2 linked regions of the Homo sapiens genome follow. The protein of the gene in region 1 purifies or fractionates together with the protein of each later gene. This does not show direct contact. Each region holds a gene or a part of one and is shown in the gene's direction. Other genes may lie near its edges.

Evidence for each region.
Region 2: the proteins of PHLDB2 (region 1) and INPP5E purify together in Homo sapiens (affinity purification with mass spectrometry, with the first as the bait; one large-scale study listed by BioGRID). This does not show direct contact.

The regions. Positions count from the first base shown.
Region 1 is NC_000003.12:111,882,572-111,887,892, forward strand, and holds part of PHLDB2 (pleckstrin homology-like domain family B member 2), read left to right. Parts: intron 1-1,492; coding exon of another isoform or gene 1,493-1,506; coding exon 1,507-2,841; intron 2,842-5,321. UniProt on the Homo sapiens protein: Seems to be involved in the assembly of the postsynaptic apparatus. May play a role in acetyl-choline receptor (AChR) aggregation in the postsynaptic membrane.
Region 2 is NC_000009.12:136,429,846-136,433,345, reverse strand, and holds part of INPP5E (phosphatidylinositol polyphosphate 5-phosphatase type IV), read left to right. Parts: intron 1-66; coding exon 67-191; intron 192-270; coding exon 271-390; intron 391-759; coding exon 760-867; exon of another isoform or gene 868-1,030; intron 1,031-1,360; coding exon 1,361-1,522; intron 1,523-2,228; coding exon 2,229-2,344; intron 2,345-2,932; coding exon 2,933-3,069; intron 3,070-3,500. UniProt on the Homo sapiens protein: Phosphatidylinositol (PtdIns) phosphatase that specifically hydrolyzes the 5-phosphate of phosphatidylinositol-3,4,5-trisphosphate (PtdIns(3,4,5)P3), phosphatidylinositol 4,5-bisphosphate (PtdIns(4,5)P2) and phosphatidylinositol 3,5-bisphosphate (PtdIns(3,5)P2).

The DNA.
Region 1 (5,321 bases):
GTACATTTAAAAAGATAAATTATGTTTGTATCTATCTGGGCAGGGCTTTGGGTTAGAGGAGAAGGAGCCCAAGGCACCTTTATGGACAGTTGGGTACCTGGCCCATCACCAGGATTTATGCAGCCAGACTGTTTCTTGGCCTTCTGGATAAAGAAGCAGCTCTTTACTAGGCTGCCTGAATTTGCTCACAAAGTGTGTGAAGCTAAGCAACAGGGTGAAGGTCCTTAATCCATGGCTGAGAGGGAGTGAGGAAGGCTTTGATTAAAATGGAAAGCTTATGTTCATCAAGTTTTTCACCTATAGGACAACAAGAGCTAGAGGGGTGGAAGATAAAAATACTAGACATAACCTCTTCCTTAAACTTGTGGCCTAGTTACAGAGACAACCACATTATGAAACCATTACTAACCATATGTGATACTGTTTATATATAGACCAGAGATGTCATAATTAGTGTCTGATGTGCCTAAGGGTTGGAGGACAGTTATAGTGGTTCATGAGTTCAGTGACAATGTTTAAACTGTATTTTCCCTTTGCTGATAATCTAAGAAAATTTTTTTTTATCAGGTAGAATTATAAGCCTTCCCATTTGCAGTAATAGTTTGTAATTCAAAGACATTTTCATTGGCTAAAACTTTAGTGTTTTAAGTTAACATTGTGCAAACCAGGGTTCAAAACATATTTTCTTAAAAATTTTAATGGTGGAAGATAGAATCCTGATCTGTCCCTGGAAGAGTGACTAGGTCCTGATAGTTGTTTCTGCTAGAGGAGAGAATTTGCAAGGATGAGCATAGTGCATTTGGGGTACTAGAAAATTTAAAGGATATAACAGTTTCAGGTTTTTAAATATACCATCCCGACCATGTGTCAATAATTGGTGGAATACCCTTTTCTTTGTTATTACCTACCTCTGATGACTAAAGGAGCTTTAAGTCTTTTTGTTGAGAAGGTAACTCCCAGAGTCCTTGTTTAAAGAACCATCTTCTAACCCTCATGTTATTGATCAGTGTCTAACGTAAACTTTTTTTTCTCTGCCCAAATGTGAATTTTGTTTCCTCAGGACTTTATTTCTGAACAGTTAATGATTCTAGCAGAGACAGCTATAGGAAAGTCCATTGCATTATGCCTTTGGGCATTAGCTAGTCACTAGGGAAGCAGGTGTTCCTCGAAGGGCCAGAACATTAAGGACAAATTGTCTTTTTTAATGTACCAGCCTAATCCTGCACCTTTACTTGGTTAGGGATTTGTTTCGCTCAAATGTCATTGCTGTCCTTTTATTTCTCTTTTGTACATAAGTTATCTCAGGTCAATGATCTTTATTCTCCTTTAATTTGCTGTATGGTTTTAACAGGTTTTTTAGTAAAACTGAGTTTGTGTTTGTTAGTTGCATTAGGTCAGACTGCAAGATTGTTTGTTCAGATGTAGGCCTAACAAGGGATTGTTCTTTTAAAATCTTCTTTAAGGCAAAATTTTCTGTTTTATTTCTTTACAGATTCCAGCAAGATTATGGAAGAGCATAGCTACATACAAAAGGAGCTAGATTTACAAAATGGTAGCTTAGAGGAAGACTCTGTGGTGCATTCTGTTGAGAACGATTCCCAAAACATGATGGAGAGCCTCAGCCCAAAGAAATACTCTTCCAGTCTGAGATTTAAAGCCAATGGAGACTATTCTGGCTCCTATTTAACCCTCTCACAACCTGTGCCTGCAAAGAGAAGCCCTTCTCCTTTGGGAACCAGTGTCAGAAGCAGCCCCTCCTTAGCCAAAATCCAGGGAAGCAAGCAGTTCTCTTATGATGGAACTGACAAAAATATTCCTATGAAACCTCCAACTCCTTTACTCAACACTACATCCTCCCTCAGTGGATATCCACTTGGAAGAGCAGACTTTGATCATTATACTGGCCGGGACAGTGAAAGGGCCTTGAGGCTCTCAGAGAAGCCTCCCTATTCCAAATATAGCTCAAGGCATAAATCGCATGACAATGTCTACTCTCTTGGAGGGCTGGAAGGTCGGAAGGCATCTGGCTCGCTCCTGGCCATGTGGAATGGAAGTTCCCTGAGTGATGCTGGCCCGCCTCCTATCAGCAGATCGGGAGCCGCAAGCATGCCTTCAAGCCCAAAGCAAGCCAGGAAAATGAGCATTCAGGACAGCCTGGCGCTTCAACCCAAGTTAACTAGACACAAGGAGCTTGCATCTGAAAACATCAATTTGAGAACTAGGAAGTACTCCAGCAGCAGCCTGAGTCACATGGGAGCCTACAGCCGATCACTTCCCAGGTTGTACAGAGCCACAGAGAACCAGCTGACACCTCTCAGCTTGCCTCCAAGAAACTCTCTGGGCAATTCCAAACGAACAAAACTTGGGGAAAAGGATCTACCTCATAGCGTAATAGACAATGACAATTACCTTAATTTTTCTTCTTTGAGCTCAGGGGCTTTACCCTATAAAACCTCTGCTTCTGAAGGCAATCCTTATGTAAGTTCTACCCTCAGTGTCCCTGCCAGTCCACGAGTGGCTCGGAAGATGCTTCTGGCCTCCACCTCCTCCTGTGCCTCTGATGACTTTGATCAGGCTTCATATGTGGGGACAAACCCGAGTCATTCACTTCTTGCTGGAGAGTCAGACAGAGTTTTTGCGACCAGGAGGAACTTCTCTTGTGGATCTGTGGAATTTGATGAGGCAGATTTGGAAAGCCTCAGACAGGCCTCAGGAACCCCCCAGCCTGCCCTTCGGGAACGGAAAAGCAGTATTAGCTCCATTTCAGGACGTGATGACCTGATGGATTATCACCGGCGGCAGAGGGAGGAAAGACTCAGGGAGCAGGAAATGGAGCGATTGGTAATCTTCATCTCAACAGTGATTGACCTCACTGTTTCATTAACCAGCATCTACAGGGCAGCCTTGGAGATGGACTCCAGGATATGTGGGAATATAGGATATTCATGTTCACTAGCCACAGCTGCTATCTTTCTCTTCTCTCCTGCTATCCTTCTTCTTCCCATATCACTATTAATAGGCTTGTTTGGCTATCTTGAAGGCCTCCAGGAATTAATGTTAATTTAGTTGCTCTGCGGACTTCTCACAAGTATAAATTCTTTAAAAACATAACAGAGGAGTTGGGAATTTTATGAAATTTCTGAGTCTTACAAACTTCTCTTTAAGACTATGAGGAAATGCTGACTTGTATTATTTATATCATTAAATTTGCTTGTGTATGGTTATGAGAAGTAGTCAGTGAAATCATGACTCACCAAGAATTAGGTAGTAAATTTGTCTTTATAGCAAGTTGTCTAGAAAGTTGGAGTTGCCTCAGTGGTGCTCAGCTTTTCTCCACACTGTTCATACACAACCTTACTATCTTTAGCTCTGATTCTTATCACGTACAGTGATTCCAAACTACACATACTCACAAGATCTATTGAGTTGTCTTTTTCCATTTAAAATGAATTTATACTTATTGTTGAAATATTGAAAATAAGACGGGGAAACATCCCTTGAGAGTCTCACCAATGAATGAGAACAAACAACTGCATTTTTCCTTTCTCTTTTAAGCACAGGTTTTTCTCTTAGAATGAATATCTGTGAGAGATTACTTTGATTCATTTTTGATTCATGATTTCCTTAACAAGAGAAGCTGCAGGATAGTAAAGCTGATTTACAGCAACACAGTAGGATTATCAGTGTTTTAGTCGCTAAAATATTCTAGAATATGATTTTTGAATCACAAAACTGGTTGATACCCTATAGGACAATAAAATTGTAACCCAGGCTTGTCCAACCTGTGGCCTGTGGGCCGCACAAGGCCCACAATGGCTTTGAATGCCACCCAATACAAACTCAAAGTTTCTTAAAACATTATGAGATTTTTTTTGCCTTTTTTTTTTTTAAGCTCATCAGCTATCGTTAGTGTATTTTATGTGTGGCCCAAGACAATTCTTCTCCAGTGTGGCCCAAGATTGGACACCCCTGTTGTAACCTTTGGATTATAATGGACAGAAACCATTTGCATCCATCCAGAAGGAAATACGTTTGACATTTTAGAGCAGTAATCATTTGCATCACTCATAGTTTTTGATAAGTTGATGTCTGTTCTTACAGAGTTTTCAAATACCCTAACTGACAATAGTGAATGAAAACAAATGTGCATACCCTTAGAGAATTTAGACAGTCTTTGAGTGGGTCAGTTATACAGTACTCAGTATGACTTTCCTCTTTATTACCATAAATAATCTCTGCAGACTGTTCATGGTCACAAAATGGCATTGTGTTTGGGCTTGCTTCATTGACAGAAATTCAGAAGATGTTTTAATTAGCATACAAAAGTCTTGTATATGGACAGCAAATAGAATGCTATACCATGCAGAGCAACTATTATTTATAAAGCCAGAATATTAACTTCTATCCGATAACTTATCAAGAAATCTGGGAGAGCATTTTTAATGGCTTCCATTACTCCGGACATCTTCCTTAAATGCTTCTATTTGCTCTTCTGTTCCAAGGATAGGGAACCAAATTCAAGAAATTCATCTCTGCTAGGTTTCATGTTCAGCATCTCTAAGTGTTGGTGAATTTCTCTTTCCTCCAGATTTTCCAAATCTGGTATGGTTCTTGGCAATCCAGGAAGTGACCTTCTGTACTGCCTGTAAGGTTGGGCCTGTTAAGTCATAAACAGTTTTGACTTCTTGGGAGAGCTTTGTGGATATTGCTCTAAATATGAAGTTATATATTTTTTCTTTAATAGTGGGCGTATCGTATTTGTTGAAATGAGGCTTATTTTTAAATTTGACACTCTAGACTTGATCTTGGTTGCATGGTCTATTTGTTTGACTACATTGTGGTAAAAGGGATGACGGATTCTTATCAAGCCTATGCAAAAGATGATATTGCCATTAAAAAGTAAAGTGACTCAAATTACTTCCTGAATTCTGAGAGATCAGTGAGAACAATTTACCATTAAAATAATATTTCATTTAGTTTGCAAAATCAGAGTTAGCTGAATAGAGGATTAGAGATAGAGCAGTATGAATGCCAAAGGGTTTTCCCCCTGAAAAAATAAAACATTAAAAATAATACTAGTAATATTCCAAAACATATATCCACATTTAGAAATTCATTTTTTATTATCAATTCAATCACTTCTATGTAATTAATTCTTATTCCTCTGTATCTTAGGCTCTTAATTTGGTTTCATGAAGTCATCTATTTCTAGACTAAAAAGTCCTGAAAATCTGATGTGGCTGCCTAGTACTATCTCATTTTTGTCTATGCAATTCTTTGAAATATTTAGGGTTAAGAATACCTGGTAAAGTTCTGTCCAC
Region 2 (3,500 bases), on another chromosome or scaffold:
GCAGGTCTGGGGGTGGCGGAGCTGGGAGGCCATGTCCCCCAGCCGGCCGTGCTTCCTCCTCTGCAGGCGGGAGTGGGAGACTCGTCTGCAGGAGACGCTGGGCCCGCACTATGTGCTGCTGTCCTCGGCGGCCCACGGCGTGCTCTACATGTCGCTCTTCATCCGCAGGGACCTCATCTGGTTCTGCTCAGGTGGGCGCGGCTGGAGGGGTGGGCGCGGCTGGAAGGTGGCAGCGTCCCACAGGTGAGCTGAGGGCTGCCCCTCCCACAGAGGTGGAGTGCTCCACGGTGACCACACGCATCGTGTCTCAGATCAAGACCAAGGGGGCCTTGGGCATCAGCTTCACCTTTTTTGGCACTTCCTTCCTCTTCATCACGTCCCACTTCACCTGTAAGTTGCTTGGTGCCCGCACCGCAGGTGCTGTGTGAGAACAGCTTCCTCTCCTGACCGGGACCCTGTCCAAGGCAGGGGTCCTGACCGCTGGCTTCATCTTCCACCCAGGGCCGTGGGGTGGGCACCACGCTTGCTAAGATGCACGCCAAGGACCCCCGGCAGACCCCGGCACCGAGGGCGTGCCGTGCTGGGCCCGTGCTCTGTCCTCCGAGGCGGAAATGTCACTGGCTGGGCCCGGCAGCGGATGCCCGGTGGGGTTGCGTCTGCCGGGGGTGCGCAGTCAGGGCACAGTCCAGAGGTGCGGCGCTTTAGGGAGACTCGAGCATCCGGAACCCTGTGGTCCCTACCCCATTTCTGTTCCCACAGCAGGTGACGGGAAGGTGGCGGAGCGGCTGCTGGACTACACCAGGACTGTACAAGCCCTGGTCCTGCCCAGAAATGTGCCCGACACCAACCCCTATCGCTCCAGCGCAGGTGAGGGCGTCCACGCTGCGTGTGGGTGGTGCCGCCGTGGTTCGCACACGGGCGCCCGTCGTTTTTAGGGCAGTTCTGAAGAGGCAGCGTCCTGAGCTTTGGGAAGCGAGGGCCGAAACGTCCAGTGCCCCCAGCGCATGGCCCCTCGCGGTTCTTTAGCACGGTTAGTGGGGTGGGCGGATCCTGTCCACTCGGCGTGGCCCACTAGCCTGGGTCCTGGTCCTCGCCACTGCCCGCCCCGCCGCCTCCCCTGGCTGTGTGGAGAGGAGCAGGGACGTGGCCATCGCCTGCCATGGGCATCGTCTGCTCCTGAGGCTGCTCCAGGTGCCTTCTGGAACTGTCCCAGTGCGAATCCCACCCCTGAGGGCCCGGCCCCACCGGCTGGCGCCCAAGACCCACTTCCCCTGAGAGCCACTCCCAGGCCATGTTCTGGGGAAGGGGAAGGACCTGCCGTCCCTCTGCCTGTGCCCACACATGGCCCACTGTGCCGCAGCGGACGTCACCACCCGCTTCGATGAGGTGTTCTGGTTTGGAGACTTCAACTTCCGCCTGAGTGGCGGGCGCACAGTCGTGGACGCCCTCCTGTGCCAGGGCCTGGTGGTGGACGTGCCGGCGCTGCTGCAGCACGACCAGCTCATCCGGGAGATGCGGAAAGGTGAGGGCCTGGGGGGGCGGGCATGGAGGGAGATGAGGAGAGGTGAGGGCCTGGGGGGGCGGGCGTGGAGGGAGATGAGGAGAGGTGAGGGCCTGGGGGGCGGGCGTGGAGGGAGATGAGGAAAGGTGAGGGCCTGGGGGGCGGGCGTGGAGGGAGATGAGGAGAGGTGAGGGCCTGGGGGGGCGGGCGTGGAGGGAGATGAGGAGAGGTGAGGGCCTGGGGGGGCGGGCGTGGAGGGAGATGAGGAAAGGTGAGGGCCTGGGGGGGCGGGCGTGGCGGGAGATGAGGAAAGGTGAGGGCCTGGGGGGGCGGGCGTGGAGGGAGATGAGGAAAGGTGAGGGCCTGGGGGGCGGGCGTGGAGGGAGATGAGGAGAGGTGAGGGCCTGGGGGGGCGGGCGTGGAGGGAGATGAGGAGAGGTGAGGGCCTGGGGGGGCGGGCGTGGAGGGAGATGAGGAGAGGTGAGGGCCTGGGGGGCGGGCGTGGAGGGAGATGAGGAGAGGTGAGGGCCTGGGGGGCGGGCGTGGAGGGAGATGAGGAGAGGTGAGGGCCTGGGGGGGCGGGCGTGGCGGGAGATGAGGAAAGGTGAGGGCCTGCGGCGGGTGGGGGGAGGGTGGGCGTGGTGGGAGATGAGGAGAGGTGAGGGCCTGGGGTGCGGCGGCTGGCACAAGCTGGTCTGAGCCAGTCCGAGTGCCCATCCTGTGGCAGGGTCCATCTTCAAGGGCTTCCAGGAGCCGGACATCCACTTCCTCCCATCATACAAGTTTGACATCGGGAAGGACACGTACGACAGCACCTCCAAGCAGAGGACGCCCTCATACACGGTGAGGCCTGCCCACCGCTGCGGTGCAGAGTGCTTCCAGGGCAGGCATCTCCCACAGCCGGGAACCGATGCCTGGCGTCAGGGGTCTGAGCCTGGACGGCCTGGACTTGAAACTCAGCTCTGCACCTTGGCCTTGTGGCAAGTCCCCTTTGGTGGAGAACGGCGCCCTCTCCATGGGTGTTTTCAAGGCTGGGTGAGCCGGCTGGCACACAGGGCACCAGCCATGCCCTCGCCTCCGGCCTGCAGAGCCTCTGCCCTCTGCCCGTTGCACCCTCGCTCACCCTCCTGCCAGGCCCATGGCTGCATCTCTGGGCATGTCCCGATATCTGGATATCTGCTGGAAGCCTCAAGAAGCCACTGAGGCAGGGCAGGGTAGGAGCAGCCGCTGTCCACAGGGTCTCTCCAGCGGCGAGGGACAGGCCCTGGCCCAGCTGGCCACAGACGCCAGGCAACAAAATGGGCATGAGTGTCAGGGGTCCCAGAAGGCTTCCTTGTGGGGGGCGCTTGAGAACAGCAGGGAGGTGAGCGGGCCACGCCCCACGGCTCCTCACAAGTAACTGGACCTCCTGCCTCTGCAATCTTCCCAAAGGACCGCGTCTTGTACAGAAGCCGCCACAAGGGTGACATCTGTCCTGTGAGCTACTCTTCCTGCCCCGGGATCAAGACGTCCGACCACCGCCCTGTGTATGGCCTCTTCCGGGTGAAAGTGAGGCCGGGGCGAGACAAGTCAGTGTTCTCCCGCTCACCTTCCCCCTTGGGCCTGGGGGTCGTGCCGTCGTCCCATGAGCTAAGAGGGTCCCTGTCATCGTGGGGTTCCACTTGGGGCTTTGTTCTGGGACCTTCAGGGCTGTGTTCCCCGGGATCGGTTGGACTCATCCTGGAGCAGGAGAAGGCAGGAAGGGGAGAGGCTCTGGAAAGTGAAGAGAGGCCCAGCTGGGGGGCTGGGTGTGGCCAGCTGGAGGGACGAAGGCCTTAAGCACTCAGGCATCCGCCCTGTCCTTCCTGCGGCTCTGTCCCAGGAACAGGCCTCCGTGTGCTTAGAGGCAGGGCCAATCTGGGCCAGTGCCCACCTAACAGCCCCTCATCCTGGCCCTGGGTGTCCTCTTAAATGCCCCCTCCTCCGGGGCCGGCCCCCTCCTAACGCCCCCTCCTCCTGG